2 separate regions of the Homo sapiens genome follow, and region 1 is linked to region 2. Evidence: fine-mapped expression QTL. Tissue or cell type: sigmoid colon. Region 2 holds a variant in brackets; the other region holds the start of a gene. All regions are shown on one strand. Distances are from middle to middle.

Region 1 (2,685 bases), 170 kb after region 2:
GAGACAGATGGAGAGAAGGGAAGGAGAGCTCAGCTCCTGCCATTAGCAGGTAATATCCTGCCCTCCGAAAACATTTGGGGCCAATACCCTCTGAGAAAGTTTTAAAAAGATAAACATAGAGACAAGAGGCTCGTCAGTCACGAGGGTTCCACCTTGAAACGTCCAACTCCAGCTCACCCGCCCCCCAAAAAATTTTTTTTTTTAATTAAAACTGTCAAACCCCAAAACACGTCCACAATTGAACTGGGACAAACCTCTGAGACTGAGGAAAACTCTCAACGAAACCCAAAAAACACAGACCAGGAGAAAATGCACCACGGAAATCCTAAAATATCTCAGGAATGAGAGCCCAACTGGAGTGAGGGCTGCAGTCAGGGCAGGTGGGAGCGGGAATAGAATCCAGGCAAGAACACAGACCCATAGTGATCAGGAGCACGGATTCCGGAGCAAAAGCGCCTGGGTTTAGGTCCTGACGCTGCCAACCACTAGTCTGTGTGCTTGGGCAGGTTTTTAACCTCGGTTTCCCCGTGTGAACCGAGTCGAACAATCATGGAGTGTTCTGAACATTAAAAGAGTTAAAATGTGCAAAGGCTTCAGAACAGCAGGCGGACCCGTTGTACGCGCTGTGTGCTAACTTTAATTACGATCGTCACCGTCTGCTCCCGGCCACCGCTGGCGTCCTCCCCAGCTCGTCCGCGCCTCCCTCGCCGGGCGCGCCCCTAGCCCCGGCCGGACCCTTCCCGTGGACTCCAGTCCTGGCTCGAGGACACCCGTCCCTAGCGCAGCCTGCCACCGCTTCCACTCGGGGCCGCCCCGCGGGCCTCCCGGACCCTGGACGGCAATTCGCGGGCGCTCGCGCGGGCAACCCCAGCCCGGAGCCACGACCGCCGCGGCCGGAGCAAGCGCCACCTCCTCACACTCACCACGGCGCTCCATCTCGCGTGCCGGACGCGGACGCCCGCCCCACACCTACGGCCGCCGCCACCGCCGAGGGCTGGAGCTCGCTGCCCCCATCCCCCACGGCCTGCGGACGCCCGGCCAAATCTCAGCCGCAGCCGCAGCCGCAGCCACAGCCACAGGCACCACCACCACTGCAGCCGCCACCGCCCCTGCAGCTACCGCCACGGCCGCACCGCCCGCCCGCCAGCCCCGCCCCCTGGAGCCCAGCCCATTGGCCCGCGCTCCCGGGGGCGGGGCCGGCGACCGCGGCAGGTACGGGAGGCAACTAGCTCGCGCGCAGAACGCGACCGTCAGTTGCGCGCGGCCGGACGCTGTCCCAGCATCACGGGCTGCGTCGGCTGCCCTTTTGGCTTGCAGGGGACAGGCAGAGCGACTCAGAGAAAAGTCACCTGAGGACTAGATGCGGCTAATGGCCAGATGAGCAGCTACATTTCTTATGAGACACTTCTGTGGATCGCCTTTTTCCTCCCTCTTCCAGGGGTTAGGGCCTGGGGAAGGGCGCCACACGTCTGAATGAAGAATGAACTACCTCAAAACCAGCCATCTACTCTGCCCCTCTGCCCTCTATGGAGGGTAATAGTTTCCACTTAGGCCTATCTGTATTTTTTTTTTTTTTTTTTTTTTTTTTGGAGACGGAGTCTCGCTCTGTCGCCCAGACGAGTCTAATGGCGTGATCTCGGCTCACTGCAACCTCCGCCTCCCGGGCTCAATTGATTCTCCCACCTCAGCCACCTGAGTAGCTGCGATTATAGGCACCCATTACCACGCCAAGCTAATTTTAGTATTTTTAGTAGAGGCAGGGTTTCGCTATGTTGGCCAAGCTGGTCTCGAATTCCCGACCTCCCGACCTCAGGTGATCCACCCGCCTCAGCCTCCCAAAGTACTGGGATTACAAGCATGAGCCACTGTGCCCGGTCCTTTCTTTCTTAGCTGCACTTTCAAACTCACTTCATAATGAGAAGAAAAAAAAAAGTCTGAGAAAGATGGAATAATTATAGCAAGCAGGGCTAGAAAGCACATAGTCCCTATATCACACCACTCGCTGGAACAAGCGATGGCACTTACCTCAGTGCTGGAACATTCAGAAAGAACTCATAGAGAAACAGAGGAAAAAACACAGGGAGGGAGACTGTGGGTAGCGCTGGGGTCTGCGAGAAAAATGACCACACACGGGAGAAACAGAAAAAGACACAGGAGAATGTGCTGAGGAAAACTGGAAAGAAAATGAGGTGCAGACACAGGAAAAGGGAAGAAAACCAAGGAAGGCAGAAATAAGTGAAGGCAAAAAGAGAAAATAAGGAAGAAAAATAAAAGGAGAGACTACCCACTTAACAAACAGAAAAGTAAGTGAGCATGACAGAACCAAAAGTAGGGTAGCGGGGCAAGAGAAAAACTCATTGACAAAGAAAGAGAAGAGGGACATCTTACATAGACATATCTTTGAACCCTTACAGGAAAAACAATGCTAAGAAAATACAACAAATTTGGCTCCTCAGGTGCTACTTAGAAAAGATAAATAAGAAAACTCAGCTCCTTGGTTACTTTGGCACCATACTGGATTTTTTGGACTCAACTTACACAGATTTTCCCCTCAAATCCCCAAAATAATAGTAACAAGGTCCTGCCACAAATAGGAAACCTCAAAAACCAAAATTCCTTCTAATCGTGCTGAAAAAGAAAAATGCGCCAAGGACTCTCACCATGGAAGCCAATGATGCCTGAACT
Region 2 (2,685 bases):
GCCTTGCATTCTCATGGGGAAGCCACCTGCCATGCAGCAAGTGACCTCATTCCCTATTGGTACTTGCTTTGATCCCTGAAATCAAAATCTTGGCTAATGGACATGTATATTAGTGCACGTATGTACATAAGTACGTTTGGGAGACAGAGATGAATGAATAAACTCTCAGCAGAGGTTTTTGATTTTGATATATTTGGTCTGATTAGCTTGCAAGTTAGAATATAGTAGGTTCTATGAGGCTACGGCCATGGAGTCTATGTGTAAAAGCTGTCTGCTTCTACACTAAGAGTAACTATGCAATCATGAATGTTAGGGAAGAATGTAGGTAGACAAGAACTGGCTATTGTAAGGGGCCAGTGTAAGGTGCTCAAACCTAGCACCACTAGTGGGAAAAGGAGTCAAAGGGCATCTTTGCTGAATAAAAACACAGTGTCTTAAGGCCTCAGAGGCAGATTCTGGGCAAATGTTATAGCCGGAGCTCAGAATCTCAAAGAGAACCATTGTAATGCCCTATGACAGCCAATGACAATAAAGCAAGGAAAGGGCTTTCCTCCTCCCCTTTAGTTTCCTAACTGCTGTGGCTGAGCCCAAGTGGCAGGACCACCACCATTTGAAGTCCACACAAGTCCTACAGCTCTTTGTTGGTTGTTTTGCTGGCACTCACCAGGAAGCAGAGTTCACCCTGGCGGAAGAGGTTTGAGCCCTCTCCAGCGCAGGCAGCTGTGTTCAGGACCTCTGGAGAATGCAGTCATTTGTTTACACAGCTAAATCAAACACCTCCTTGGGAGGACAAGCTGCAGTAGCAGCAGGCTTCCTTCTTTAACTGTGACCTCTCTGTCTGTAATTCAAACACATTCAGTAACAGATACATTAAATTATCTGTTAGGTGGGAAATGATGTCCAGTAGAGGCAGAGAAAGAAAGAAAATCTTTCCTTTTGTTTAAACTTGATGATCAAAGTGGGGAGCAACCCTGTGCTGACGTGGCATAAGAGGACATATTTTGACGAATACATCCAGGACGTGCTAGGAGTGAGGTCTTCGAGGGTAAGGGAGCCACTGCCCGCTTAGAGATGTTGGCTGTATAATCCCGCCTCTCACATCTGTAACTCCTAAACTCAGGCTGAGAACAAAGCGGGCGATGAATGCCAGCGGAGGGCTCAAGTGGCCCTGCTGGTGTCAAGGTAGACACCTGGGGTTCCTTTTGAGAAATGCCA[A/G]TGGATGTGGGCAAACATCCCAGAATGAGTTTCCTGGCTAATCTAAACAGTAACATTCAAGATTTATTTCCCACTACATGGAAAAATCCACTGGATAAAACAGCCTTGGGCTATCTGAATTGGTTGGAATGGTGAGTTAGAGGCCGAAGGCACTGCAATAAATTTTATCTTGCACGCTGGGCACCGCAAACAGACATCTGAAACGTTCACCCACAGAGAGTAAGGAAACACATGACGACTGGAAAACAAAGGGACAGGAAATGCACAGCTGTTAAAAAATGTCTGTCTCTAAAATAAACAACTTAAATACAATAATGAAACAAATAAAAAGATCAAGTTGGAGGACAAAGATTCACACTGGGGCAAAGCCACGAGGTAATGCCTGCGTCTAACTGGGTCCAAAGGAAGAGAATCACCTGGCTGACAACTGCAGGGCACTTGAGCTCTTAAAGTTTCTTGTTGAATCATCCCAACAACTTGGGCACATGGATGCTACTATATTCAAAACATCTGCTAATCAACAGAGCTGGGCACTGACCAATCAGACCACATTCTGGCCACAAACACCCATTTCAGCCACACCAGTGAATGCCACTTGAACTGCAGTTTGGGTTATCATCCTCAGTTTTCTGGCAGTAAAACAGCAAAGTTGCCTCCAATCACAGAGCCTATTGGTGCAAGAGATGGTGTCCTTTCACCTATAGGTGAAGCTTTTGCAAGCCGTGCCTGCTGACTCCAGGCACTACTTCTTCTCCCCTGATGCTGCAGCCACACCTCTGCCCAGCCCATCCATTTCTCTTGAGCTTCACATCTCTGCACTTTGCTTATGCCCTTCCTCCTGCCTGAAATTGTCTTTCTTCCTTGCTTAGCTGGAAAATTCAACCTTTACAGCCCAGAGAAGCATTTATGAGCGTCTATTCTATGTGACTACAGCTCCACTAAGGTAAGTTGGGAAGTCAAAAAGAAAAGTAAGGCAGTTTCGGCCCTTGAGGGGTTCAGGGCCATGAAGGTGCGGAGGCGTATAAACAAATCATGATCAAGGGCTACAGGGAAGGGAATGGTGCACAGAAGAAGGCCCGAAACATAGGACCTGAGTCCTGAAGCGTGGGTGTGGGTGTTGACCTGGCAGTCGAGTGGGGGAAGGATGGAAAGGCTCAGTGGTACCAGGTGGGAAGCCTGGGGCAGTCCCATAGAACATGGAAGAAGCATGAAGGGCTAGACTGGGAAGGCCTTTACCTTAACAGCAATGAGGAGTCACTGTGGAGCTGTGGGCGCTAAGTCTTGGCAAGCCTGGGATTTTAGAAAGATCTTGCTGGAAGCAGTTGAGAGCTGAACAGCAAGAGACTGGCGGCCTGGCAAACAGCTAAGAGAGACAGTACACGCTTCTGTAAATGGAGGCCATAAATGGGAAAGAAGGAGGAATTTCAGAGATAATTTGGAGGAAGAATTGACAGTGCTTAGAGGATTTAT

Direction of the effects. Alleles are on the strand shown, and positions count from the first base shown. SD is a standard deviation of normalised expression in the study named.
As copies of G replace A in region 2, the expression in sigmoid colon of the gene that starts at base 1,093 in region 1 goes up (moderate effect, 0.44 SD a copy in GTEx).

Evidence for each region. PIP is the estimated chance that this variant, and not a neighbour inherited with it, causes the effect.
Region 1: ARHGAP29 starts here. The variant in region 2 is fine-mapped to the expression of ARHGAP29 in sigmoid colon (GTEx, PIP above 0.99).

Annotation. Positions count from the first base shown.
Region 1 is chr1:94,236,492-94,239,176 of GRCh38, forward strand. ARHGAP29 (Rho GTPase activating protein 29) reads right to left here and starts at 1,093. Exons shown (of 23, transcript NM_004815.4): 1 at 924-1,093. RefSeq lists silencers at 817-1,056, 1,067-1,296.
Region 2 is chr1:94,068,403-94,071,087 of GRCh38, forward strand. The region is part of intron 11 of ABCA4 (ATP binding cassette subfamily A member 4); the gene reads right to left. LOC124904222 (a long non-coding RNA gene) reads left to right here and starts at 1,957. Exons shown (of 2, transcript XR_007066231.1): 1 at 1,957-2,158. RefSeq lists enhancers at 1-663, 854-1,411. The variant A/G (reference allele first, on the strand shown) is at 1,216.